2 separate regions of the Homo sapiens genome follow, and region 1 is linked to region 2. Evidence: fine-mapped expression QTL. A gene starts in region 2. The other region holds a variant in brackets. All regions are shown on one strand. Distances are between the middles of the regions. Region 1 overlaps JAZF1-AS1 (JAZF1 antisense RNA 1). Region 2 holds the start of JAZF1-AS1 (JAZF1 antisense RNA 1).

Region 1 (15,135 bases), 59 kb before region 2:
GTATGTGAATTACCTCTCAACAGTTTTTTTTTTTATTTCCTTTACATGACAATTTAAAGGAATAGACTTTAGTTTCAAGAACTGGAACTACAAATAACTCTTTGTCCTAATGAAAACACAAACAACAATAACAATAAAAACAAAAAATAACTATACAGACTCTCAATGAAAAGGTAGACTAAGAGTCTTTGTTGGGGGTTTGGGAGGGGGAAGCCACAACCCTGAATTTAACAGGAACACGTTCCTTTCACTGAGAAAATTATGATTTGCAATCACATTCAGCCTAACAGTCCCAGGTAGTCCCAGATAGTGTGTAAGAGTCAGGCTTCTGGACAGAGGTTTAGTAATGGGATGGATTCGTGTTTTTGGAAGCCAGTAAAACTTGAGGACGAGTTAGGAGACATGTGAAGCAAAAGCACAACCGCACCCAGCTTGCTAACAACGGCAAGATGCAGACACCGTCCACTGCCCCCACATCTATGGGCTAACTAGTTAGCTGCTAGTTGAAACTTACAGAATATTAATGAATGAATTGAGTAGTTCCTTGTAGGGACTTGGAATGTAACCGAACACTGTATGGTTGGTTCAGAGGTTAGCTTACTTGAACCAAAACAATTTGCAAATTATGTAAACTAATTCAGAGTACAGTAAAAGCCCTGTGTCCCCATCCAAAACTCCTAAATCAGCCCCTCTGTCTGGAAGTCATCTGTTTGTCAAACCTCTGGGCTGACATCTAACTCTTGCAATTTGAAAGTTGCCATAACAACCACGGGGAAAGTTTTGCTCAACAGAATATAATCCAAAAGCAATTAAAAAAAAAAAAAAAACCTTTTGAGCAGCTTCTAGAAGCCAAAGGGAATGTGAATGATGCACGCCCAACAAGTAAAATTTCTCACAGGTATAAAATCTGGGGATCACAAGGCAAGAAACAGAAAACTAGAAGGTATTGTCAAATTAACAAAGCTGGAAACGTGGCTGGCTCAGCCACCTCTCTTTATCCTGGGCACCTTACACATAAGGTGTCCAAGAAATGTTTGTTGATTTGATCTGATTGAGAGCAGTTCAAATCCTTATTTCATTTCCCAAAGAAGAATGAGCCTATCTCATTTGAGCTGGGACCCAAATGCACTAAATGGATGTGAATTTCAGAAATCCCTGTACTTGAAATGATTGGGCTTTTATCATTGTGCTCCCTCAACCACCCTTGAGTTAGTATTCGATTTGACATCAGTTCAAAAAAAACTGCTTTTGCAAAAATTAAATTCAATTAAGACAAAATAGAAAATAAAACATTTTAAAACAACTTCTTTTTGAAGTGTATCTTAGGGGAAATTCTTTCTCTGTGGGCAATGCGAATTTTCTTATTTTTCTGTGCATCATTTATTCTGTCTTGTCTGATGAGGGCCCTTAATTTTTTTTTTTTCATCTCCTATTTTTAGCTTTGTGTTTCAGGGAACCTCTCCACGTTTCAAGGGAAGGTTGTGACTAGGTCTGGCCAATCAGAAATTTTACACTGCCCTTGCCACAATGATTGGTTCAGAGTTATACACATGACCCAATCAGAACTAGTAGAGTCAATGCTGGCCGATTGGCTGAAGGAACTGAAAGAGTTCACATAATCTCATCAGGTTTATCCCTTGGATTGTGAGGGACTGTGGCATGCTGCAAATAACACTGCACCAACAGATAAAAGGACTTGAGTTTTAAACTTGGCCTTGCTTCCTGTAAGCTGTGTGGCCTTGGACAAGTCACTTGACCTCCTGGGATCTCATTCTCCTCATCTGCAAAATTCCTTGGAAGTTTCTGGGAGGATTTTATAAAGGATGCATATGTGAAGCCACTTTATATGTTATAATGCTTTACTGAAACGTCAGGCCTTGCCTTTTGTCTTCACAGCAGCCCAAACTGAAATTAGCAGGTAGGGCTGTTTGGGTTCAGTGCCCTAAAAACCAAAAACCCTGCCCAAGAAGAAGAGAATCTGAAGCCACAGAATGTCACAGCCAAAAGGGAGCTTGGAGGATATCTGGTCCAACCCCCTTCATTTCTCAGATGAGGAAACTTGCTCTATCTACACTTGAAAGGGAGGAAATGACATAAGGACAACTATTGCAACCATTCATGCGGGTTCCCCACGTTAACTTAAAGCAATCAGTTAACAAACTATGGCCTTTTAAGACAAAGACCATGCATGTGTTTCCCTAATGTGCTTATCTTTTTCTGTGGTAAACAGCGTCACCTGCAGATAAGTGACAGCTACAGAAAAAATAAATAAATAAATAAATAAATAAATAAATGGATTTACCGGACAGTTCAATTCCTCCGCACAGCTCAGCCATCTGAGTTCAAAGATGGAAGGAAAAGAGATTTGCAGTTGAAAAAATTGCTGAGCCATGTGTCTGAAATGCGTTAAATAATTGCAATAGGGATTTTATTTGTGTTTTTTCGTTTTCCCTGTTGGTGAGAGCCACTCCTGCCAACAAATTATTTGCCAAATGGTGACTTCATTTATGATGCCGGTAACGTGATGTTTAACAGCTGACATGTGACCAGTACTTCAAAAAAACTGTGTCCCTTAGCTTACATGGCAACTGAAGTGTTGCAAAAATTCAGAGATCCACATGTAAAATTCAAGAATTTAATATGAGTAAGAGTTATTGAAAGTCACATCTGGTCAATTTTTCCTCATTTATTTATGTATTATTTTATTATTATTACTTTTTTAGAGACAAAGTCTTGCTCTGTTGCCCAGGCTGGAGTGCAGTGGTATGATCATAGCTCACTGTATACCTCAAATTCCTAGGCTCAAGAGATCCTCCTGCCTCAGCCTGCTGAGTAACTAGGACTACGGGTCTGCACCACTGTGCCCAGCTAAATTATTTTTAAAGATTATACTAATAAAAACCTCTAGTACTCATTACGTACAAAAAGCAGTTTATGTATATTAAATAATTTAATCCTTCCCTTTCTGGAAAACTGGGACTAACTCTATGAGGTAGGGGCTGTTTTTATCATCCACAGGTTTGAAGTGAGGCCCAGAAAAGTTGAGTAACTTTCCCAAATTCTCATAGCAGGAAGATAGTAGAGCTGGGATTTGAACCTAGGAACTTGGCTCTATGGTCAGAATGCTTAACCACTCTATTATATTGATCTTTTTGTGATAATCTTGCACATAGAATACCTTGTATTTTCTTTAAAAAATAACTTGTATATGAAATTAAAATGAATTAAAATAACTGTTCAAATTTATCTTTCTAGAACACTTTTTTAATGACAGCATCAAGAAAAAGCAGAGTAAGAATGCAAAATTTGGAGCCAGGTCACTTGAGTTGAGGCAACTGACTAGTAGCTGTTATGACCCTGGGATAAGTGCCTGAAACTCCTTATGCCTCAGTTTCTTTGTCTGTAAAATAGGGATAAGAGTGGTACCTAAATCCTAGAGTGTTTGCTGGAGAGTTAGTGAGATAGAAAGGGAAATAGTTTATGTAAAGTGCATAGCCCAGTGTCTGGCACATAAAATATGCTCAATAAATATCACCCAGTATCAGTATCCCTATTATCAATACCATTATTACCTTGAGTATTAGACACCACTTCAGTTCTGCTTTTGCTCCTCCCAGCTTTACCTGTCTCCCCTCCCCACCTCTCAACCCCTGCAGTCCACTTCCGCATAGGCTCCAATCTGCTTCTCACATCTGCCACCCAGCTGTGCTCCTGTCATCTCCTGCCCTGGGACATCTCTGTTGACCTCAATGCATGAGACTCCAGGGGAAATTTCTTCATACCCAAGCATATGCAACCCAGAGTGCTAGGCAACGAGCCCTCTAAGAGTCAAAACTTGAAGTCTTTCTTTTTCCCTGTCAAAGAACGTATGAGTTGGCTAGAGTTGCTATAACAAAGCACGATAGACTGGTGACTTAAACAACAGAAATTTATTTTATCGTACTTCTGGAGGCTGGGAGTCCAAGATCAAGGTGTCAGCAGGTTGGTTTCTTCTGAGGTCTCTCTTCTTGGCTTGCAGATGACCGCCTTCCTGCTATGGCCTCACCTGGCCTTTCCTCTGTGAACATGCATCCTTGATGTCTCTGTGTGTGTACAAATTTTCTGTTCCTAAAAGGACACTAGTCAGATTAAAACAGGGCCCATTCTATCAGGCTCACTTATCTTAATCACTTCTTTACAGGCCCTATCTCCAAATGCTGTCACATTCTCAGATACTGAGGGTTAGGAATTCACCATATGAATCCTGGAGAAACACAATTCAACCCATGACAGAGGGTCCCAGGCTACAATTCATTAGGCTCCTCACAAGGTCCTGATGGGCAGAACAACCAGTTGACTGTAGTGGCTGACTTACCCGTCTTTCCTGGTTTACAACCCTACTCCTCTTTGGGATCATACTCACCAATAAAGACTTCATACATAGGCTTGCTCTCAAGCCCTTCTTTCTGAAGAATTGGGACTAAGGCATCTAATGGAAATTCTGGATGATGTCCTACTGCAGGGTCAACCAGACCTGTCAAATGTGGCCCCAGCCGTCCTTTCTGCTCTCACTGCCCCATCTGCACAGGGCTTGGCCTGTGCTCACCACACCAGACTCTGCATGTTCCCTTGCCCTCCTGGGACACAGAGTCCTCACCTGTAAATGACAGGGCTGGGTCCCTTCCTCCCTTCCAATTGTATAAGAAAGACATGCTCCACCTTCCTATGAGTGACCTTGTTCACTCTCCTGGAGATGAGTTATGATCTCCATAGAATTCTAAATAAGAAAATATTCCAGGCAAATTGAAAAAGAAAAAAAAAAGATGTCCTAGATTTACACAAAAAGGAGGCAGACAAACCACACAGTAGTTCAAAAGCTCTCTAAATTAGTGCTCCAGCACTATATGGGAAAGTTAACAGATATGGAGCTGGCCAATCCCAGATTTTAATTAAAACCCATCTTTTAGGCCAGGTGTCGAGGCTCACACCTGTAATCCCAGCACTTTGGGAGGCCAAGGCAGGCAGATCACCTGAGGTCAAGAGTTGGAGATCAGCCTGGCCAATATGGTGAAACTCCATCTCTACTAAAAATACAAAAATCAGCTGGGCATTGTGGTGCATGCCTGTAATCCCAGCTACTCAGGAGGCTGAGGCATGAGAATTGCTTGAACCTAGGAGGCATAGGTTGCAGTGAGCCAAGTTCACTCCACTGCACTCCAGCCTGGGTGACAGAGGGAGGCTCGGTCTCAAAAAAAAAAAAAAAAAATTAATTTTAAATTTTTTTTAAAAAATCTTTTATTAGTCAAAATATGACTAGTATGGCCACCCAGCCAAAAGAGAGAACTAGCTTAATACAAATGTGCTCTCACACACATACACACAAACATGTACTTCTTAGCATTTTGTTATTTTATTCTATGTGGAAGCAGCAGTATGTGGATGCAAATGGATTTTTCAAGTATTTCTCTTGGCATTATGGCCATATTTAATGTAACATCCAGTAAAGCAGAAATTTTAATTAAGTTTATGGCCTGACTATCTGTATTTGTTTGGAATTTCTGTCTCTTCAAAGCAAAATGTGAACCTGGCTTTAGACCTGGAAATATCTCAGGCTGCAACCAAAAACATTATCAACAAACGGCAAATGTGTGGTCTGAAATATAAAATAAGTTTAGAAGAAGTTGAAGCCTATTATCCAAATATCACAAAATACCTGGATATTAATTATGTAGTCACTAACTTATTTGGATATGCTTCAGGGAAGATGAAAAGAAAATTTTATATATTTTCAAGGGGAGAAAAAAACTATCTCAGCATCAATAAACTACCAAAGAGCCATTTAAATGCATTTTATTTATGTCTCTGGGTTTTGATGTGGTTTTCCTTTTAATCTTAATTTCTTTGCATTTTATAAATGAATAAAGCCTATGTACAATTCATATTTAAATGTTTTAGTTAATCTGGAGGTTTATTTTCTTTAAGAGAGTACAAAGTCACTAATGAGTACCAAATAAGAATAGTGAATGTGACCAATATAAATTAGTAAGAAGCATTTGTGTGAACTTGGAAGCAATAACAAAACACTTAAAATAATCTCTACTGTGTAATATAGGCATAACTTGGACCTGCCATCTCTTGTCTGCCTTTGGGGGGATGAATTGAGCTGCCCATAATTCAACTTTGTATTCTCTGTGAAGTATTTGTTACGCGAATTAAAGGTGCAAATAGATGTCCAATTTGAAACGGAAAATCTGGATGGAAACCCTGAAACAGCATTGCTAAACTCCCTACTTAAATTCATATGAAGGCAAAAATTCACAATGCTAAAAACAAGTACAGTCAACTCACTGCCAGAATCTGGTAGGCCTTCTCAATTCTTGTCTCCAGAAAAAGAAACTGTCTACCCAGGTAGAAATGCCTTTATCTTTTCACCACCACTGTCTTGCTGCATGAATTCAAGTTGAAAGACCAGTACAAGTCCTAGACCAGGCAGAAAAATAGAAACTCTGTCCTCTTATAGTACTGCTGCTTTTTGAGGTAGTCAGGGCCCTGTCTCTCCCACTAAACTCTCCCGTTTCCAAACTAATTATCTTCTCCCAAACTTGTCCATTATATATACTCATAAATTTACTCATGCCACTGATTGCCATGCCAGGCACTGTTCTAGAAGCTAGGAATACAGCAATAAACAACAACAACAGCAACAACAATATAGACTGCTCTGGTGAAGCTTATCCTCAGGCAGGGCACAAAGCAGTAGATTTTCCGTTCAGAGACTCATGCTCTGAGAAAATAGCTCTGCACAAGGTAAGAGTGAGATGGGAATAGAATATTGCACATGGGGAGATGTGGTATCCACAAGAAAAGTGCTGTAGTGGGAACAGGAAAATCCCATTTTCGTGTGTTCCACCCATGCTGAGTGATAAAGCCCAGGAACTGAGACTTACTTAATACAGTCCGGCAAAGCAGAACTGGATAAAAGCCTGCTAGACAACAGGGAGATAAACCTGTTCTATGTCAGGTAGGATAAACCACAGCAGAGTGAGAGGGACAGGGAATGCAGGGGTAAGGGGTGGGAGTGAGGACAGGGTAGTTGGGGAAGGCCTTCTTGAGGAGGTGACGTGTGAGCAGAGCCCTGAAGTAGGTAAGGAAGTGAGCCACGTGGACATGTGGAGAAGAGCTGCCCAAGCCTGTGCAAGGGCGTCAGCCTTCACCCGGTTGCCTCTGCTCCTGTAGGAACTCTTGGTTTGTTTAGTCAAGGCCAGTTGTTTCTGCCAACAGCATCTCCACAACACATCTTCCTGCTTCTGTACTCCAAAACCTTCTTTAATACAAACGTCCCCAATCCCTGGGCAATAGACTTCACGGCTCACCTTCACGGTAGAAGGGCTGCAAGAGAAAGGGGGAAAACAAACTGGATCACACAGAAAGTAAGTATAGTTGAGGGGTTTACAAAACAAGTATCCACAATATATATATTCTAGAAAAATTATTAAACTAAAAATTAAAATAAGAAGAACAAAAGGTTCTATAAAAGGATGCAAATCAGGTTTTGCTCAGTCTTGACATCTATAATAGTAAGTTTCAGAAGACAATAAAGACTTTAGGGAAAGGGTCATGACACCAGAATGCATGCATATGTATGTGTGTGTGTGTGTATGCACACACACACATATACGAAGACAATAGTAAGTCATTCTCAAGTTTGTGACATCTCAGAAAGTGAATCATCACAGTA[C/T]CTTGAGGAAATTTCTAGAAAATATATGCAGACGACCAAGACATAGATGACAAGTAAGACCTCCAGAAGAGGAAGTTGTAGCTAACAGGCCAGAGGAATCCTCGTGTACTCAGGCTGGGACCTAGAATCAAGAGCTCCAGCCGAATGCCCACGTCGGGGGCCACGCATGGCCCTGCACTGCTTCCTTCACCACCGCCTCTCCTGCAGCTCTCTCTCCGCTTTCCAGTGCCAGGAAATGGGCTTGTTGCACCATATCCTTCAACTCTCAGTTCAGAGGAAATCTTCTGCATGTTTAGTGGCCACTTAAAGCTGTAATTAATAGTGTTCTCTTCCAGTGCTTGCTAACATTGGCTATGTGGGTCACACTGTTAAGAAACTGAACCAGGAGAATTACTTTCAAAAGGTATTTTCCCTGCACAAAAGTAGAATGACATAGTGCAACATAATCGTCCTTTTTTTTCTGCCATGGAACATAAGTGATGGCTTTCTGCACCTTTAAAAGTCATACTGAGAGTCCTGAGTCATTGAGGTTTAATTGGGAAAGACTACTAAACCACCAATAACAGATATGATCTGCAACTGAGCCTCTTGAAACTCTTTCTTACAAGATCTGTGCATATTAACAAAACTTTAATCCAGCATAAACACAACTATGTGTTTAAAAAAAAGGAATTATAAGAAAATGCACCCAGATGTTAAAGGAAGGAAGGGATAGTTTCTCTGGGAGGTAGACTTTTTATTTATTTATTTATTTATTTATTTATTTATTTATTTATTTATTTATTTATTTATTTGAGACAGAGTCTCTCTCTATTGGCCAGGCTGGAGTGCAGTGGCACGATCTTGACTCACTGCAACCTCTGCCTCCCCGGCTCAAGCAATTCTCCTGCCTCAGCCTCCCGAGTAGCTGGGATTATAGGGGTGTGCCACCATGCCTAGCTAATTTTTTTATTTTTAGTAGAGGTGGGGTTTCACCATGTTGGCCAGGCTGGTCTTGAACTCCTGACCTCAGGTAATCCACCCACCTCGGCCTCCCAAATTGTTGGGATTATAGGTGTGAGCCACCGTGCCCAGCCTCTGGGAGGTAGACTTCTAAGTGATATTTTTCCTGCTTTATATAGTTAGCAGATATTTTAAAAACAGATTTTTAAGAAACCAGCCTATGCAATTGCACATATACCATGAAATTGCAACTGTTTAAAAATCAATACAGATGCTTCTCAATTTACGATGGGGCTACGTCCCAATAAACTCATTCTTAAGTTGAAAATATCATAAGGTGAAGATGCATTTAATACACCTAACCTCCAGAACATCATAGTTTAAACTTGTCTCCCTTAAACATGTCCAGAATATTTACGTTAGCCTACAGTTGGGCAAAATCATCTAACACAAAGCCTATTTTATAATAAAGTGTAGAATATCTCATGTAATATATTAAATACTGTACTGAGAATTGTTGGGTGGATACTTGGAGTATGGTTTCTACTAAATGCATTTCATTTTTGTACCAATGTACAAAAAGTGAAAAATTGTAGGTCAAACCTTCATAAAGTGGCAACTGTTTGTATGTCAGAAGAAGAAAATAAATCACAATGTATATGTAAGTGAAACTATTGATAATCTTTTTTTTCCTTCTCTTCATTTTTATTTTCTAAATTTTCAATAGGAGCATACATTACATCTGTAATTGAAAGAAATTTTTCTTAAAGTAAGATGGTGAGTGATTTGAGCATGCTTCAAGAGAGCAAACAGGCTGCTATTTGGATGCCAATCAAGTGATTGCTAATTACAAACAATTCTCATTTTCATCAAGTCAATCAGGCAGTTTTTACTTATACTTCAAGTAGAAGCCAATGTTTTTAGTTGCAAAGAACTGAATTGCTTCTGTGATAGAGTTCAAACTGCATATGCCCGTTCTTTGAAGACATTAGTAAAGCTCTATAAATCTTTAATCCAAATTTAAAAGGATTTTCTATAGGGGAGAAGGATAACAGACCATCAGTGGTAACCTCAAGGTGGATTGAGTAGTCAGATCTGTGTCGCTCCAGGCAAACTCCGCCAGGTCCACAGCAGGAGTGCGGACCCTTTGTGTAGCTCACCTCATACAACCCAGTCCAATTTTGGATGCCAGCTCATTCCTTAATTCCCTTCAGACCTCAGGATCTAAAGTTAGAAAGCCCATAAAGATAGGACACTTGTCTGCCATGCTAACTTCAGTATCCTAGAATATGGGAGGTGCTCTTCAATTTGTGGAACTGAAAAATCTGTTCAAGTGCCCAACTTTACTGAAGGATTGGAAATAACAAAAAAGAATAAAAGATCAAAGAATAACAAAGACCTTCACACTGGATGTGACTGCCAGCAGAATCATAAGAGGAGCCCTTCCAGAGGAAAGTGGCCTACTAGCACTTTCTCCTTCATCCCTGGCCTGCGCCCACCACTTTGCAGTGGCCAGCGCCTTCCCCAGCAAGAGCCCCTAGACCAGTTGTCTTCTCCCAGAGCCCAGGCCCCAACCAATGTTTGAAGGAAAACTTCACTGCTCACAAACTTCTGCCTTCCAGGATGGCCAACCACCCAGGAAGCCCTGACATTCAGGAAGGCCCCACCTCCTATTGCGAAAAGGACAAGGCATCCGAATTCAAGCTGACAGTAGCATCTTTTTCACATTTTGAAACATCTGGTATAAAAAAACACCAAGAGGGAACTGCGCACAGAACTGAAGGTGCTGGGCTCTGGAACTACCAGGCCCACCTCTGTGTTCCGTTCACATTAGCAAAGAGAAACTAGACTCCTTCATCCTTTGTTCATGCCCACCTCAGCTCTAGCCCTCCTGGCGTAATGATTTGGTTCTTTGGGAACCAAAAGAATATCCAGATTCGTAGCAGCCCAAATCTATATTAAGAACAAGAAGCATTTCCTTAAAGAAACACATTGCCAAGATTTCACTTCACAATGAAAACGGCCTTTACTTTACTTTGCCAATCAATTTAGTTGTTCATTGTCTTAAATCCTTCCACTTTGGAAAGGAGTTTTGCTTTCCATTTACATTACCAAATACCACATTAAAGAGACTCTCAAACACTGTGTTCTCAAAGTGGAAATCAAGGCACTCTCTCTCCAGCCCTGTTTCTCCAAGTTTGCCCACAGCTGCCCTGCCTCGGAATGACCTATGGAACTTTTTAAAAATGCAGATTCCCAAAGATCTTCTGAATCAGAATTTCATAGGAATGGGCCCCAGAATGTGCATTTAAAAACAAATTTCCTGAGGAAAAAGCTACCTGGCTTACATGTTTCCTGTTCATTGTGATAAATAAATGAACATTTAAAGGTGGGGAGGAGTTTCTTGAGTAATTCTAATGCAAACTAAAGACCCCACTGTTTTGCTCTAGAAAAACAAACTGAAGTTTAAAAAAAAGTCTGCTTTTGCCGGCCCGGTGGCTCACATCTATAATCCCAGCACTGTGGGAGGCCAAGGCGGGTGGATCACTTGAGCTCATGAGTTTGAGACCAGCCTGGTCAACATGGTGAAACCCCATCTCTACAAAAAATACAAAAATTAGCCGGGGTGGTGGTGCATTCCTGTAGTCCCAGACACTCGGGAGGCTGAAGCATGAGAATCGGTTGAGCCTGGGAAACGGAGGTTGCAGTGAGCCAAAAGGGCACCACTGCACTCCAGCCTGGGTGACAGAGGGAGATCCTGTCTCAAAAACAAAAACAAAAACAAAAACAAAACAAAGTCTGCTTTTCCCACTCTCCCTTCCATGATTTTCCATCGGTATTCCAAATTATTGGGGTTCAGACTCAGCTGAAAATCCTGTTGTACCTCATTTTACGGATAGGAAAATGCATTCAGGAAGTGCGCATATGCAGAATTTGCAAGCACTTTTGTGGTCTGACTTCATGATGGCATAAGCTCATGTGGTCCATGTACTTTACATACATTATCATATTTAATCCCATAAATAGAAAAAATCTTATAGATGTCATTGTTCCCACTTTGTAGTTGGAGAAACTGAGGCTCAGGAATAATTTGAACCCAGGTATGTTCTTTCATCCAGAGTTTGGGCTTTCCCTACTACACCCAGATGCCTGTCATCCACCCACCAATGTTTAACTAGTTTTCTCTTATTTTTGTTCTAGAGTTATTTTATATCTGGACTTTTCTCCTGCCCAGATATATTCTATATGCTAATTAATACCTTAAATTACATATGTAGAGCTATCCCTTTGATTTAAAGATTTGTTTTCTGCTAAATTCACCCTTTTGACTTTCGCTAAAATTCACGTTTTATTATTCTTTGGACATTAATACTTGATCAGTTCCTGAAAACCTTTTAACAAGGAAAGGATGGCACAAGTATGAGATGCTGGATGCAGAGGGTGGGAAGGAGATATCTCGTCACTCCAGGGAGAGGCAACAATGATCAGCGACCGTTACCTTCACAGTTTTACCCATGACCAGCTTGCCCTGGGAGCCTATATGGATCTTTTAGGATCCATGGTCACTGACAACAGTCCTGTTATGCCCTTAGCTGAGTTTTTCAGAGGATCTTTATGTATAAAATGGCAAGGGAAAATATTAATTGCCTGGAGAGGGACTAAGAATACAATTAACATCCATTAAAGTAAGTATGTTTGTTATTCACACTACATCTTCGTTTTATGCCATAAAAATGAGATGCATTTGGGTTGTGAGTCAATCTGGCAAATCAATTTTATGAGCTTTTCCTTATAAGTTAGGCCAGTAGCAGGCCCTTCATTGTTCAAAAAGGAAATGACACAAAGAGTTGGTTTAACAGCTGAGAAGGCAATGGAAGACCAGAAGAGCAAGTAGAGGTCTGGGCATTTGCCTCTTTCTTTCCTTATTTCCATTGGAGTATGGTTTTTAATTGCAAGCTCTATGAGGCTAGGGATGGTGTCTGTCTGGTTCACTGCATTATCTCTGGTGCCTAGCACTACAACGAGACCAGAGAAGGTGATTAGTCAACATTTGTGACAAATGTTGAATTAAAGCCTTTCAGAAATCCCATGTTGGCTTTGTTACACTGATTTTGTGTTTTCTAATTTCTTGCGTGCGATAGAATTCAATGCAGTACGAATGTCTTAAGTTACTAAATACCCGAGCACATATGCAAGATTTCAAACATTATTTTTTTGTCGTTAAAGATATGACTAGGAAAAAAAGTAATCAAATAGAAATATGATAGTTTAGAACAGTGTTGAAGGATCAAATCAATCCAAATTCAAAAATATCACAATGTTTGTTACTATTTTTCTCTTTCCTTTTGTTCTGGAATAATATTGCTTTGCTCCAGAAACAATGAATCATTTGTCATCTGCGTTATGCTCTCTTCCAAATAAAATAGCTATGTAGAATGGACTTATAGACAAAAGCCTTCTTGAGTCTGAAGACATGAGGATAATATATTTAAGACTGGTGATTAATAGCAGTTATAGAAATGCCTTAAGTTTTAAAGTCTAAAGAACTCAATTTTTAGAGTGCTGCAAGTTTGTTTTGTTTATATGAATTATAAATATGGAAAAACATTATTTCTTTGGGTAGAGATATTAAAGTAAAGTAGCTTTGTTTTGTTTTCTAAGTATGTACTATTCAGGGCTATTGGATACGGAGTCATAAGCAATCTATTTACTTATTGTGGTTCATGCTAGTCTTACAGGAATCGTTGATACTTCGGCATTGGAATGAGAGAATTATAGAATAATAAAGTTAAAGGCCAGGCATGGTGGCTCATGCCTGTAATCCCAGCACTTTGGGAGGCTGAGGTGGGCAGATTGAGCCCAGAAGTTAGAGACCACCTTGGGCAACATTGTGAGATCCCTATCTCTACAAAAAATACAAGAAATTAGCCAGGCATGGTGGCGTGCACCTGTAGTCCCAGCTACTCATAAGGGCGAGGTGGGAGGATCACTTGAGCCTGGCAGGTGGAGGCTGCAGTGAGCTGTGTTCGCCCCACTGCACTCCAGCCTGAGTGAGAGAATGAGAACTTGTCTGAAAAAAAGGAAAGAAAGGAAGAAAGAGAGAGAGAGAAAGGAAAAGAAAGAAAAGAGGAAGGAAGGAAGGAAGGAAGGAAGGAAGGAAAGAAGGGAGGGAGGGAGGGAAGGAGAGAAGGAGGGAAGGAATGGAGGAAGGAAGAAAGGAAGGAAGGAAGGAAGGAAGGAAGGAAGGAAGGAAGGCAGGCAGGCAGGCAGGCTAGAAAAGACTTCGAAAGATCATAAGGTGTGGGCTTTGTTGATACACATATTCTAGGCTAGGCAATCTGTTCGAAAGTCTTAGAAATAGGCATGCCCTCTGACCCAGTAATTCTACTTCAAGGAATTTATCAGAGGTATAAAGATATATATACAAATATGTACATCATGGCCCTATTTGTAATAGCATGAAATTGAAAACAGACCTAGGTGTGCAACAGTGGAAGATTAGAAAATACTCTATGGTATATCTAATACTTTGCAACCACTAAAGTAGCATTTGTTTACATGGAAAATGTTCACCATTTATTGTTAAGTAAACATAAAAAGCTGAGAAGGAGACAAAGTATAGTTGGTATGATGCCATTTTAGTAAGTTTAAAACTGTGTGTTTTTATATGTGTGCATGCACATGTCCATGAAAACTGCCAAAACATTAATACTGCTTGGATTAGACATCTCTGGGGCCTTACAGCCCCTCAGCCGTCCATTTTACTTCAGTCATTGCTGTGGAAAGCAGCTACACAGGTGTAAACTGACAGCCTATTGCCTCGGCTGGGAGGAGGTCCTCTCAGCCCTGTGGGTTGTCTGCAGAAACCATCTCAGCCTTCTGATGTCTGTGCAAATTTAGAAGAACAAGGGAGTTCATGCCCTGTGGGGTGACCCTTGACTAAAAGAAGATGGGAGCCAGTGGATCAATATTTCAAGTGATATGCCAATAAACTTTAACAACCAGCTGTCTAACAAAAATAGCCCTGATATGTGGCTTTCACCAATTTCCACGGTGTAAACACTCCCACTGTGGTCAATTTCAAGCTACCAACCTGATGTCACTGAGCACAAAGTTGGCACGACATATGCACAACAGGCCATGCCAAGCTGGGCAAGCAGGTTCCAACACACCATTGAATATATTCACCTCTTCCATCTCTCTCTTATCTCTCTCTCTCCCTCTCTTTCTCTCTTTCTCTCTCTCTCTCTCTTTTTAGAGACAGGATCTCACTCTGTCACCCAGGCTGGAGTGCATGGCATGATCACAGCTCACTGCAGCCTCGACCTTCCATCTCTTCAATGGACAATCTGAAGCTCATTCTACAGTGAGACTAAGCCTTAGTTACCCAGAGTGGTGAACGATTTGATAATACACTTTTGAATGGCCTTTCCCTCCTTCCCTGCTTCCCTTTCTCTAGCCCTCCACTCCCATTC
Region 2 (15,135 bases):
TTTCTTATGACTCTGATCTGCACTGGGTAATATAGAACGATGTTGAGAACCAAGAAGTGTTAGAACCAGGAAGGCAGTCCTTATCAACTATTTATTCCCTCTGATATGACTGTTTACCTGGGCAGCTCAGATATTATCTTCAAGATGTGTTTAAGGTGCAAATGACCCTTCTTGAATTGTTAACAACAAGAATTAGATTACATCTAATCTCATAGTGATGAGAAATAATTAATCCGGATATTTTTGGGCTGTTGTGGCAATAACAGTAATCTAAGTTGGGCACCGTGGCATGGAAGGAAAAACAGGGGGTGCAAACTGGAAGGTTCATGGGCCAACTGTGGGTTGCAGGTGGAATGTGTTTTCCTTCCAGTGTTTTAAAAGAACAGTTCTCTCCAGGTCACCATTGCCCCACCATTCACACAATACAAAGGTGCATTCACACACCTCTTCTCTCATTGCATCCTGTGTCTGACCCTAAGGCTTCTGAGTTTGAGGCCTTATAAATAAGAAAAGTCATTACATATATAAGGTAATACAGAGAAGAAAGAATCATTTATCTTGGCAAACACATAATGGGATGAAAATTACAGAAAGGCAAATTGAGTTATAAAACCCAGGGGAAAAGTCATTTCCTAGAGAAATGACTGGAATCTGGGTCCATTTTCTGAAAGGCAAAAGTAGCCTCCACATTGGTCCAGATCTGGAAAAGAAAGGATTGAGCTGCAGAGCCCATTGAGATGACGTTTAATGGGACTGTTTGTTCTGTGACTCTGGGAACAAAAATTGCAACAGAAAATATAATTATGCCAAACAATTAGCTGAAAGGCAACATGAGTTAAGTCCTTACAAAACAGGAGACAAAGATAAAGAGCATGACAAAAGCAAAAGGGTCACCTTTCCTCATGAGAGGTGATGCCTGTTTTCCCTACTCCACCCCAAAATCACCAGCAGGAAGGCGCAGAGTGGAGGTTGTCAGGAACAGGGTGAAGAGCAACCCAAGGGTATCTTTTAAAAGTCTGACGTCTCTATAAAGTTTAGTTTTAAAATAAGGTATTTAAGACCAGAAACAAGCTTGGTAACAGTAATGAGAGGACCTCCCAATAGAGAAGCAGAGGGCAAAAGACAAGCCAAGAGCTTCAGTTCCTGCTGGAGGCCTCATGACATCTCCATCATCAATTCCCCATCCTGATTCTCAGTATCCTCACCTAAGTGCATTTGGCAAACTAGGATGCTGTTGCCCCTCTAGCCTAGTTTCTGTGATTTATGTGAGCATGGGCCCGCCCCCAGATTCAAGGGGAGAGAACAAAAGTGTTTTATAATCCACAAATTCAAGTACGGGTAGAATGTTAAGTGCCAGGACTCTGGAGTCACACAGAGCTGAGTTCAATCCTAGTTCCAGCACTTACTAGCTTTAAGGACCTCAGCAAGTTACCTTATTTCCCAGGGTCTTGTTTTTCTCATCCATAGTTTGGGCATAACAGCATTTGTCTACCTCATAGGATTTAAGAACTGCTCTCTGTTAAGGCATCAAGTCCAATAGTAGGCACTCAATGAATGTGGTAATAGTTATTTAAAATAATCACCATAATGAATTTGAACATCTGTGTAAAGGGAAAGGTATCGTAGTCAGTCTACGAAAGGAGAGCTAGTGTCAGATCTCATGTCATTGCTGAATGGCTCCCTGCTTATCTCTGTCCAGTTGAATGGCTTTGCGTCAGCAGAGACTAGTAAACTAGCACCATCAAAACAAATGAGACAAGCATTTTCTAAGTGCCTGTTATTGGCGCAGCACAGTCCCTGTGCTAGACCTTAGAAAGAGGTCTCGTCAAAAGTGTGTCCACAACCACGGGAAGGAATGACTTGTAATCTATCCAAGCTAAGAGATTGAAGACTATCTTTCCTCGATGCTACATTAGAGAGGAACAGTAACAAATTGTTAGAAATTGCTTTAACATTGAAAACTGAAGTCTTAGCACACTGCCTTATCACAGTGCTGAACTATACTCCCATGCAACTTTTATTGAGCAGTGCAGGCCTAAAGATAGTTTCTCTTTGGGAGGCCAAGGTGGACGGATCATGAAGTCAGGAGATTGAGACCATCCTGGCTAACATGGCAAAACCCCGTCTCTGCTAAAAATACAAAAAATTAGCCAGGTGTGGTAGTGGGCGCCTGTAGTCTCAGCTACTCGGGAGGCTGAGGCAGAATTGCTTGAACCTAGGAGGCGGAGGTTGCAGTGAGCCGAGATGGTGCCACTGCACTCCAGCCTGGGCGACAGAGCGAGACTCCGGCTAAAAAAAAAAAAATAAAAGTTTCTTTTCTCAAGGAGGCTACCATCAAGTGCAGAGGCCTCCAAGGAGGAATGCATTCACCCCAGGATGTGGGCCAGGCAATACTCTGCGGTATGGTATGAAGATACTAGGCCTTCTATTCCTGCGTTTTAAAAAGAATTTGATTTATTTCATAACACACATACTACATTTGGTTTTGGTTTAGAGATAGAATCTCACTCTGTAGCCCAGGCTGGAGTGTAGTGGTGTGATCATAGCTCAGTGTATCCTTGAACTTCTGGGTTCAAGTTATTCCCCCCTGCCTCAGCCTCCTGAATAGCCAGGATTACAGGGGTGTACCACCACACCCAGCTAATTTTTTAGTTTTTTGCCAGACATAGGGTCCTGCTATATTGACCAGGCTGGTCTCAAACCCCTGGCTTCAAATGTCCTCCCACCTCAGCCTCCCAAAGTACTGGGATTATAGGCGTGACTCACTGTGCCCAGCCTATAATATACATACTATATGTGAAAAGTAGCACCTGTATATAATTTATAAGTAAATATAAATATTAATGAGATCAAGGTTCAAGTGGATTCTTGAGCAAAAGGTTTGAGAACTACTGGTACACAGGAGATGGAAGACCAGTAAGCCAGCAGTCAGAATCTGATGCAGAGGGAATTTGGCTAGAACACAGATGACAGGCATCCAGCTCAGCAGGGAAGGAAGAGGAGGAAGTTATAGGGAAGGCTTCCTGGAGGAGATGACATGCTGAGTTGCTGCAGAGTATTTGGGGGAGGGAATAGGGAAGAGGGAAAAAGAATGTTCCAGACAGGCTACACAATATTTGCAAAGAAAGGCAAGGTGGTTTTTGTTGAACAAGTGAGCGCATTTTGAAAACTAAATGACAGCATGCGGTGGCTCATACCTGTAATCCCAGCACTTTGGGAGGCCAAGGTGGTTGAGTCCAGGACTGCGAGTCCAGCCTGGGCAAATGGCAAAACTCCATCTCTATAAAAAAATACAAAAAATTAGCTGGGCATGGTGGCGTGCACCTGTAATCCCAGCTACCCAGGAAGCTGAAATGGGAGGATCGCTTGACTCCAGGAGGTCGAGGCTGCAGTGAGCCGTGATCGTGCCACTGTACTCCAGCCTGGGCAACAGAGTGAGATCTTATCTTAAAAAAAAAAAAAAAAAAAAAAAAAGAAGAAGAAGAAAGAAAACTAAAATGATTTGGTACATCTTGAACTGTCAGTACATGTGGGGAAACTGTAGGAGGTAAGGCTGGGATCAATTTTGGTCACTGAAAAGCAGGAAGCCTATTCTGGTAGTGAAAGTTACCACTAAGACATTCTAGCAGGGGAGATGAGATCATGGAGTATTCCCAATTTGATCTTCTAGTCCAATCTCCAGTGATACTTGTCTGAGTCCAGAGGAAACGGACTGCAATAGTGTGAGCTGGTAAAACCTCAAAAAGCTAGAACAAAAAACGTGCTAGTAGCCTTTGAAGTTATAGAAATCCTCAAGACTGTGCATTGCTGGGTGAGAATCAGTGACGTCTAAAAACACATCTTTGGGCAAAAAAGGCTGTGCAGTCTTTTACAAGCATTAGTGGCCTTAGTGGCTCCATTACAGTCAACAGCAACTGAAGTTATCATCTGAGTGAGCCAAAGCTGGAAAGAAGGGAAATAATAGATACCAGAGCAGCCAAGAGGGTAGTACACGGAGTCCAACCAAGCCACCCCTAGCAGGCCCTTAGAATAGATTGAGGAGGACTTTGCAAAGCACCTAGTGCTCTCTCACGTGAGGAGAGACTGGGCTTGTCTTATTCAAATTGTATCCCTCATATCTTGCGCAGTGGAACAGGACTGCAAGGCTGCACAGATCCCAGGGTCACTGTTCATGCAGTTGCCTATATAAATAGAGCCTTCTGGAGTTGTGTAACAGGAGCTTTGCATAGATGTTCAATCAAGATAGGTTAAAGGCAAAAATGAAACAGTAATTGCTTAGCTGCTTCTGTTAACATTATTCTAAAACTCAGGTTGGGGTGGCCTGAGCAGCAGTGGCTCCCATCAGATTTGGGTTTGGAGTTATCATCTGGGTAGTAGTGTGGCACATAATGTAGTGGAATGGATCCAGGATGCTCAATTAGAACTGCAGTGATTGGGTGGGTGTTTTACTACTTTAGTTCTGGAAAAGTCCTTCAAGGAACTGGAAATAAATGCCAAAACTACGTATACAGTCAGTAGGCAGGAGCAGCCAGGTGGAGAGCTAGGGGCTAACACTCATGAGGTCACTGGTGGCAACTAATAAGAATACCCCCATTACTCATTCTAAGGCTAGCTCTTAATCCTAGGCAAAATGAGACTGAGGGACAAAATGAGAATTAATCACCAGAGAGCAGATAAAGCTGATTCATTTCTGAGCTGGAATAAAATAAATACAGAAAACTTGGTTACATAAATATTAAACAATAAAACCTGGAATAGAAATCATCCTCCTTAGAAGAAGATGGAGCCTAAAAAGAAGGCATCCCTTTGAGCCCAAGGTTGCTGTTGGTGGAAGTGGCAGCCTTAGCATTCAAGAGCCAGGGAACATCAGACATTGTAAGCGTCCACAGACTTGCATGAGCTGAAGAAGACCAAGGTTCATGATCTGCTCCTTCGACACAGTGGTGACAATAGAAGAAATATCTAGTAAACCTGAAAAGCACCTCAAGAGGGACCTGGAAAACAATCTAAAAAGCCAGAGAAAGCTACAGTTGAAGGCAGTATAGAGTTAGATTCAAGATAGAATCTAATGTTCATATAGATCCTCTTGCATCATTAACAGATGTCCACACAGGACACAGGAAGTGCACGGTTTTGATTATCAGTGTATGCCAAAATAAACCAATTCCTGTATGTGGAGGACAGACAGCTGTATGAAGCAGGATCCTCAGTGTCTTCAGTTGGCTCCATTAGACCAGTGGATTCACACCTTCCGGCAGCTGCCCCATCTCGAGGGCACTGGACATGCTGGATTTGGGGAGACTGTTATGCGATCTCAAACCATTTGTAATGCTAAGTACCATATTATGGGGCCACTGCACATCCATACTTTGTGCCTATACATTGGGAGGCACTGGGCTCTGGGGAGAGACAGATGGTTTTCAAGAAAAGGCTCTTAAACCCAGAGAATGCTTCTTGTCTACAGCCACTGTCATATCATTCTGACTTCTCAGTTCCCTCACTTTCCCTCTCCTTTCAAATATTTTTACTTTCCAAATCAGACAGATGTTTTTTGCCAGTACAGAGGTATATCAGTCATCACCTTCTCTCTCGGATGTAATAAGTTGAATTGTTTGTTTTATATATTTTTGTAGCTTAGATGTTGACTTTATCTAAAGGGATATCCTGGAAACAAACATTTTAAAAATATAAGTACAGAAAGGTAAGCATGCTATTAGCAATTTTTAAAAAACTTTGCCTGTGGTTACTATCTATATATAATTTGTCCTTCTATTGTCTATCAATGCCTTCTAAATGCACCATGAGTACAGAGAAAAAAACTGTCTGTGTGCACCTGGGAGAACTTGCTTGATGCCCCGGCCTCAGTTTACCACATCTCCAAAACCAGTGGTTCTGACAGCCAGAGTATCTTCCAGGTCTAAGAGATCACAATCATGTATCTTATATAAAGACCGGAAATGCCTAGAGTGTACAGATTTTTAAAAAGTAGTATGAGCAGAACATCACATAAACAAAGCTTCAGTCACATATGAAGAAGTAGTAGGGTGGATTATTTTCAGGCAAAATGAACTGATTCCTTACAAAACAGTAATAATTATCCAAGGTAGAGAAAATAATTTTGTCTTAAAAACCAATATCTTGATTTACTTTGGAAGTTATTTTAGCTCACTTCATTTTTTAAAAAATCTATTTTTTTCAATTTGGTCTAGCAAGGTTTTATTTTAGGAATAGTGAAACTGACAGGAGGTAGTAGAAAGCCATGCATTAGTGAAACCCAGGCCCCTTACTTCCTTCATCTTTCACCTGCACATTTCTGGCACTTCCCATCTCGGAACTCTCTTGCCTGAACCACCTCTCCACACTCTTGGGAGTTAATAACTCCACGTAGACAATTTTTCCTCTGGAGGACAGAACTGCTACTTCTTCAAAGCTTTTGGGGCTCCCAGATGCTGCATAGTGGGGGTGCCTAACATTCATCTCTAAGGGTGGCTGTTTTGGCATCATTTTTGGCTGAAGTTTTGTATTGCATTTCCATGTCATTTGGTGTGGTGTGTGCCTGCCAGATATTCTGCCTGCTCTCAGCTGAAGGCCTTCCCAGATTGGGCAGCTGAATGTACTGCACAGCTGCCAAAATTCTAATTCAAGATCTAGAATTCTAACTCCTGCTCTTTAGACCCTTGTCTGGCCTTGGCCTCAGTCCCCTGCCAACTCGGTCCCTGGCTCATTATCAGGCCCACCAGGGCCCTGCCCCCACCCTCATTGGGCCCATGAAACCATTCTTGGCACCAAACTGAACTTCAAGACACAGCTGCCCCAGCCCCACCCAAGCCGAATCTCATCTCAGCAAGTTTGTCACCTTGTGAGCTGCAAGACAGAAGAGATGAGAAGAGAAAATGCCACCGGTGATGGTCAGATCATAAAACTTCCTGTAGCAACAGACATATTACATGTGCCTTTACTCTAAGCACTTACATGAAAAGCAAACAATCCCATTATTAGAAATAACACTAGACAGAGATGCATAGAGTTTATGGAGGGAGGAATACTATTTCTCCATGCATCTGCACCAGAGGGTAAGTGAAATTTGCCCTAAGGAAAAATGCTAAATTCAGTATGCATATATTAATATTAATAAAAAAAATGTACTGTTGGGTCATAAACTGCTGATAATGTGTAATATTTCTTAGACACCTGGAAAAGTGCTACTGGAAAATACACACTTTACAGAAGAAATATGACTGCAACTGGAGGAGGGGGTGGGGACAAGAAAGTAATTGATTCTCAGCAAAATGCTGGTTTTCAGGGAAGCTACTAAATTCACCTTAAGTGGTTACCTGGTCAACATTATGCTTTAAATGCTCACAGGATGAAATCGCTTCCTTTTTAAATGAAGAGTCACTATGTCCCTTGCCGTTGTTTCCGCTCCTTCTAGCCTTAACCAATGCACTGTCCTTTCTGCAGTGGCTGAAACGAGGATGGGTTAATTACCAGACCTGAGATGGTGGAGTGGGTGCAGTAGGGTGCTGTAATTTCGGGTGATGAAATTATTTTAGTTTTTGTTTTCCTAGAAGGAGCAGGGAGTATAAAAAACGTGGCACATATGTAAAACACAGGCAAATGCACTTGACAACCAAGCACTCTATTTTGAAATTTAAATAAAGCTAAGATTTTTTTCTGGCCTAGAGGGAAAGCTTCATTAAAATCAATTAGTTAGTACAAACCTCCGGAGAATGTGTACTTTTTCTAAAGAAGGTTTAAAGAAGAAGGTGCACACAATTACCTTTCCTGGGTCCCCTGTGAATGTGTCACACCTAGACAGGTGGCTGAGTACAAAAAAATGTCCCTGAGAGGGACCAGGGTAACTCCCTGAGTTCTCCTCGCAGGGAGGTAGGTGTAATTAATCGATGTGGGTGTATTAAGAACGTCATATACATAACCAAGGAGGCTCCAAACAGATGGCACGGATGGCAAGCCGTAAAGGGCAGGCCTAGCGAGATAAAGTTGGTGGCAGGGCTCGCAGGTGAGGCCTGGGTCCGCGCGCTGAGGTTGGGGCCGCACAGCTGTAGCCGCGCGCCCTGGTCCCTCCTCCCAGCTGCGGCGGCCTTCCCCCCCCGCCCCCGCCCCCGCCCTCCCCCCGCCGCTCCCGACGCCGCCGCCGCAGCCGCCGCCTCCCCTCTGCCTCCCGGTGGCTCCTCGCTCTCCTTCCATCTCTCTCGCCCCCTCTCCCTCCGTCCCGTCCTCGCCGCTCCCCTCACCCCGCCTCTCTCCCCCTCCCCCAGCCCCTCCTCTCCTCACCCCACCCGGCCTCCCTCCCTCCCTCGCCCGCCCGGCGCTCGCAGAGCCGACACCAGGGGGGCTCTCGATGTAGCACCATGACAGGCATCGCCGCCGCCTCCTTCTTCTCCAATACCTGCCGATTCGGGGGCTGCGGACTCCACTTCCCCACCCTGGCCGACCTCATCGAGCACATCGAGGACAACCACATCGGTAAATGGCCCGGGGGTGGGCGGGGGTGCCAGGCGCGCGGAAACTCCTGCCCGGGCGGGGAGCCCCGGAATGGCCAGGGGTGGCCGGCGGGGAGGGAGGCGGCAGGGCGGGGAGGGCGCGTGCGAGCCCCGAGGTGGGGGTGGCGGGATGCGGGGGCGCGAGGTGCCGGGGGGCGGGGAGCGGGCTCGGGTGGGGGAGGGGGCGGGCGCCCCGAGGTGCCGCGGGCGGGCGGGCGGGCGGCTGGGGGACTCAGGGGCGTGCACGCGGGCTGCGAAGTGGTGGGAGCGGGGAGCGCCGCGGCGGGGCGGCGGGGTTGCGGCGGCGGGGCCGAGTGCCGGCGCGCGGGGCGCGGGGCGGAGGGCGCGGCGGGCGGCGGGAGCTGGGCGCTGGGCAGGGTCGCGGAGTTAGTTGGCCCGGGTGGTCGGAGTAGCCCGAGGCGCTGAGGGCAGCGGGGGGCGGGCGCTGCACGCCGCCGGGCGCTTCCGCCCCGGCTCGAGCTGTCAGGGCTCGGCGGCGGCTGCAGCCGCGGGGAGGTGGAGCGGGGGGGCGGGGGTGGCTCCACCGCGGCAGCCATTCCGCTTCCTCCTCCCGCCGCCGCCGCCGCCACTGCGTCCTGTCAGCGCCGGTTGCTAGGTGTGGTGCGTCGGGAGGGGGCCGGGGCCGGCGGCCGCGGGCGGGGGCCGGGGAGCTTGCCCTCTCCCTGGGAGGCGGCCGAGGGGCCCGGGCGGGGCCGGGGACGCGGGCCCGGGGGCTCTGGGTGCCCTCCCCTGCCCCGGCCTGGCGCGGACGCCCGGGCGCTGCGGGCTGAGGTCTTGGGTGCGCCCGCGGGCCGCGCCCAGCGCCCCGGGGTCGACGCGCCCTGGAGGCCCCTGCGGCGGCGCCCGCTGGAGAGACACCCCCAGGGCCCATGGCCGGGCATTTAAATGCACCCCGGCTCTGCGATTTGCCTTTCTAATGGTGCTAGGCCCGAGGTGCGCTGGCTGCGCCCTGGGATCGGCGGCGGCCTGCGCAGCGCCCCGGGCCCGGGAGACGCCGGGGAGGGGGCGCCCCGCAGGGTGGCTGCTTTCCCTTCACGCCTGGACCCCTGGACCTTTCAACAAGTCCTCTGATTTGCAGAAGTCATTGCACACATTTTCACACTTCTATTCGGAACCCCTGCTAAGGGAGGTGGGCCGGGTGCATCTGGCTTAGGCGGTCCAACCACCTGCGGAAGGTGTGACCGACGCCAGCGAGTTGTCCTGCGTGGGCTAGAAGGTGAAGGGTCCGAGCGATGTCCCAATGGGGCTGTCTAATCCAGAGAACCTGTAAATTGCCCCCAGGAAGTCCAAATGAATGCCATGGATTCAGCCATGTGGATGCAGCTCACGTTTCTACAAAGTTGAGAGAATAAATCACGACTGCTGTGTATTTATGCAGGAATAAAATGAGGCAGAACCCTATGCTCCTTTGCTTAGTATAGTGCTGTCTCTGCACACAGTGGCTGCTTAATAAGTGTTGAATGCCTGTTTAGAATGTGATTTGATGGGCCATCCGGAATAGGAGATAATCATGGGAAACGTCTACAAAATGTCTTTCAGAGGAAAATGCTGTTGAGTAATTGTCCAGGTTTTGAAACTTTTCAAGTTTTCAGGCGTCCTTGTAATAGCTTCTTCCATTTCCTCTGCTAAAGGTATGACAGAAGAGCTGGGCAAGTTTTGGTAGTCTTAAAAGCAGTTTAATGGAGCAACCAATTTGCTGATTCATATCATGATTGAATAGTCATAACTGAAAGTGCTTGAAAGTATTAAATCAGATTTTTCATGATGGCTAGTTTAAAATAAAGCGAAAACACCGGTACTGTGAAGTTCTGGTAGAAATGTTACTAGTTCAAGTTCTTCCCCTTACTCCCAATAATAAGTAAAAAATAAATATAGATAATGCTATACATTAATATGTATGATATAAGTAATATAAATAAATAATTTCTCTTGACTTACAGAAGGCTGTCATTGCATATCCCATCCATTCTCGCTAACAGTTATTTCAGAATAAACTATAATTTATATAAGCTGAGTAATAATTTTACCCCATTGCCTACCTACTTAGACAAGCTGGTTAAAAGACAGTATAAATTATATTTATTAAAATGTGTTAAAGACAGTTATCCTTCTTGAGGATTTAGTTTGAGATGGTTTAAAACTTGGTGAATCATGAGGTTTTTTTTTTAAGTGTAGAAATTGTCTTAATATTTTGCACACATTTTTAAAGAAGGTTAAGAGTTTGATACGTTTTCTAAAACTCAGCTTTGAAGTAATGCTACCTCATTCCCAGAAGGCTAGTGTTGTCCTTTTAATAGTGAAAATGTGGAAAAATTAAGTTTACAGCAATAGCAGTGACCTAGGTGAACTGTGTTGCAGGGCTAACACAGTTGAAAACAGTTTGAACCAGCAAACTTTATGAAAAGCAAATGTTAAAATGAACAAACACTTGCAATTCCCAGGATGAAGAGGCTCAAACTATTATACACTTCTGCTGGGGAGAGGCCCTTTACTATCAAAGGCAGCCCTATATGCAGAAAGAAGAACTGATCTTAAGAAGAATAAAAATATCCCAATTAGTAGATAGTGTCATATAAATACACTTCTGATGAAAAGACATGGGTGAAAATATAAAGCATTTAGTCAAAGTTCTAGACAGGTATTGTTATGTGGTATTTATCGTTTTTGATTCAATCTATAAGTATTTGGAGACCGTTAATGATTGACTTACTGATTTCATGTCTGTTGGTGAGTGGTTACATTAAAAAGATTCATGAAAAGAATAAGAGGTGTGTTATTTTGCTTTTAATTTGTTCAACAGTCTTGTTATTTAGCAACCGTGAGTATTAGAGATATGCTTAGGTGAGCATTCCATTTTGGGGGCCTATCTGGGTTATTACCTTTAGCCACTAGTAAAAACCCTTAAACAGCGATAAAATGAATATTTATGGGAATATGGTGTGTTTCTTGCTTGGCAGATTTTTCAAGGCCTGTGTTTTTCATTATAAAAGTATTATGTTTAGTTTGGATTAATTAAGTGCATTAAGTTGAGAATAACTCTCTGTTATCTTATATGTGTATGCTTAACTTTTGTTTTTAACTGTTTTCCTCTCCCCATAATGAACAAGGATTTGGGGGCTTTAGAACCAAGGGAAGTGTGATTTTCACCACCCACTTTTTTAGCTCTTTTCTCTCCTGGAAGAGTGCTGTACCGGTGTTCCTGTTTTCTTTCTTGCATTTCACTGCTGGTTCAGTACTGGAGTACCTGTCTCAGTGTATACACTGAATATCCTAGCTAAAACTCTCCCCCATCCCCACTTAAATTTAAATTGCCGAGAAATCCCGTAGCCCTGCAACTGTGAAGTGCTTTTCCATCAATTTTGTTATCAATTCATTCATAGGTCTGAGTCTGTTACATGGAGATGGGAAAAGCAGGTCCAGGTTTGCTTGCTTCTTATTTTGAGTAGATAATTGAGTTTGTAGAAACATTCTTGGTATGAACATCCTAGATAGATGAAGTTAAACTGGTAACTGGGAATCTTAGAAACACCAGGAGCACTAAATTTAGCACTGAAGGTCATGTCCCAGGCTCATGAAATGCCGCTACAACCCTGCATCCCAGTGCTATGAAATCGTATGGCTTTTTGTCTGAGAAACACAACTGTTGAATCATTCTTATTTGATTATTTGGTGCATTTTTAAAAGTACCTCTGCATTTTGAATTTATTTATGTAATAATATATATTGAGTCCCTAGTTTATGCCAGGCAAAGTTATGAGCACTTGATATTTTTTGGTTAACAAAATGAAAATATCACTCTTTAGGAAGTTTATATTCTAGGATAGGGGGCCAGACAATAAACAATTGAGGTATGTGATACACAGTATGTTGGGAGGTGGTTAGTGATACAGAAAAGAGAAAAACTAGATCAGGGTCCGGAGGGTTGGGAGGAGAAAGTATGAGAATTTTAAATAGATTGGTCAGGGTGGGCCTTGCTGAGAGGCTGATATGGGAGACAAAACCTCGAAGGAGGTGTGAGAGTTAGTCATGAGGACATTCTGGGCGCAGGCAGTACACAGGCCCCAAGGCAGGCCTGCAGCACTTGAATAGAAACACAGGAATCTGACCCAATTCAGTTATTCATGTGATCGTACCAGACTAGCAGGTCATTTAGAACTTTCCTCAGATGTTAGGATCCTCAGCTTTGCTATTGAAACATTTCCCTGCAAGGGCCCAGTTAAGGGGCAGAGTCTCATTGACCAAGAATGGCTTGCATTAGCTATGACTTGGTTCCTGACCCCGAATATCAACAGGTTTCTTGTTGTGAGTCTCTACTTGTTAGTTTCCTCATCTCCAAAACCCAGGTAATAAACCTACAGTGCTTCATTTCATAGTATAGATTTATAAACCGTCTAATTAATAAAGGTCAAAGTTTCTGTAAAAAAAAATCAGGGCACTTACTATCAAAACTGTAGAATTTAGCTCCTAAGATGATTTAGTAAATATTTGCATTATCTTCTCAAAGGAGCATCACAGTGTACTAAATAGATAAGCTGTGCAATATGTCATAGGTCCTTATTACTCCCACTTTTAGGTGAGCAAACTAAGGTACAGTTTATAATTGCCTGAGCTTTCGTGGCTGATGTGTATGATTTGAGATTTGAATTCCAGACAGGTATGCAAAGCTAAGCCTATGCCAGTTGCCAATTAGGTGAAGAACGTGACAGTCCCCTCCTCACCTCCCCTCACACGATTGACTCTGTTTCCTCCTTTAGAAAGTAACTGAACTCGAGATGAAGGTCATCTGAGCAGTGGCATAGCGAATCCAGCCTGCTTGGAGTTGAACACACATGTCTGCCACTTGTCCCCCTTATGACCAGGGGCAAATTAACCGTACTATGCCTCCTCTGTAAAATGAGGATAGTAGCAGCATCCATCTCACGGAGTGGTTAGTGAGGATTAAGTGAGATAATATATGTGAAGTGTTTATCTACAATAATAAGTTGTCTACATCATCTAGTTTCTTGCCATTTGTGTATCTGCTAAATAAATATGTAATCCTACTGTCAGAGTCTACCTTCGAGATTAACATGGGTTGTATCCACCTATTAGTGGTGCTGTTTTGGGCATTTTATAACTATGACATCATCAGGCTCTTCCTGGGAAGGACTGAGAATGGAAAATAGGAGACTCCTCAACAGTCTAGTGCTGGTGTTGCAGCCTCTGGCCACGTTCTCTTTTGTGTGGCCAGAGGCACTTTACACCCTGGCAGAGGCATTTGCCACAGTGGACTGGGAAAGTGGTGTCAAAGCCAGCGGCTTCCAACATGGCCTTTCCTTGTGGCCTGAATTTATTTGAAAAAATCCAGGACTAGAAAGAGGCACTGTGCCTTGGGCCTGTGGGTGCATTCCATTGAGGACACTTCCTGTGGGGAGAAGGAATGACTGAATTAATAAATGAATGAATGAAAGGCTTGTTGCTGCCTGCCCTGCTCTCTGCCTGTGCCCTGTGGCTTGGCGGCAAGATCTCCCTGTTACTCCCAGGGTTCCCGAGAAGCCCCCAGGTGTAATGCTAGGAGTTTTAAATACATGTGCATACACACACACACACACACACACACACACCCACACACCCCATAGGCAGGATCAGGGAACCCGAAATCTGAAACTTTACGGCAGTCTCCAAAACTCTGTTTTCACTGGTTTTTCCATTAGCCTCTTCTCACCTGTAAACAGTCAGATCATCCTTTATAAAACATCACTGTTGAACATCCTGTCTCATAAGTTTCACAAGCTTCTAATTGTTTTCATTTAGTATACACATTTTCTGACATGTGACCGAAATGTACAGACACCAGAACTCTGCCTGTAACTGACTGGGTTGACAAAAACCCACATATTCTTCAGAAAATGGTTTCCTTTAGAGTTCATATATTTCGGAGATATCTCCTACGTTGACAGTTCTAGAAATACAAACTGACAGCTGTTTTGAGAAAACCCAATTCTTCCCGTAGGTGACAGTGAGGATACCTTAAGGCTGGCACAGGCTGGTGACACTTGATGAGGGGCTTCCCTGGGACTGTTTGGAAGCCAGAGGCCTGGTGTTGTAGACTGAGTCTGAGAGACAGGAGACAATGTTTCTGAATTCCTTAAAAATCCTCCTTTTCTAGTTTTAGCTTCTAGGGCAACAATCATACATACCCCACATTCCCTTATATTTCTCTACCCCATTCTTACCCCCGCCTTCAGATCTTGACAGTACAGACGTGTCCTGTGTACAAAGAAATACTTGCTGGATTGTAGATACTCATTTTGTTTCATGGTGAGGTAATAGATTTATTCCATGTTGACCTGGCTAACGTATTAAGTTGAAAAATGTTATTTATTTAGAATCTGAAGATAGGAAACCATAGATGTCAGAAATTTATTATGTGTGTATTTTTTAAAAGTGCCTTCCATTTAATATATTTAATTGCTGTAAAGAAAATTGTATTTTCCCCTCGCTGTAAGCACTGGAATGTTGCAGTAGTTTTCACCTACTTTTTTTTTTTTTTTTTTTTTTTTTTAAAGCTAGCTGCAAGCAGGGACCAGATTAGTGGATATCCTCTTTAAGGGTGAAGTCTTTCCAATTG

Evidence for each region. PIP is the estimated chance that this variant, and not a neighbour inherited with it, causes the effect.
Region 1: its variant is fine-mapped to the expression of JAZF1-AS1 in whole blood (TOPMed, PIP above 0.99).

The regions. Positions count from the first base shown.
Region 1 is chr7:28,232,690-28,247,824 of GRCh38, reverse strand. JAZF1-AS1 (JAZF1 antisense RNA 1) reads right to left here. Exons shown (of 4, transcript NR_034097.1): 4 at 6,448-7,368. Among named protein-coding and RNA genes, the nearest start is that of JAZF1, 59 kb to the right of the region's middle. The variant C/T (reference allele first, on the strand shown) is at 7,718.
Region 2 is chr7:28,173,815-28,188,949 of GRCh38, reverse strand. JAZF1-AS1 (JAZF1 antisense RNA 1) reads right to left here and starts at 8,493. Exons shown (of 4, transcript NR_034097.1): 1 at 8,411-8,493; 2 at 3,198-3,280. JAZF1 (JAZF zinc finger 1) reads left to right here and starts at 8,155. Exons shown (of 5, transcript NM_175061.4): 1 at 8,155-8,487. The coding sequence starts at 8,373. RefSeq lists silencers at 1,594-1,794, 8,961-9,080 and enhancers at 8,935-9,434, 9,435-9,936.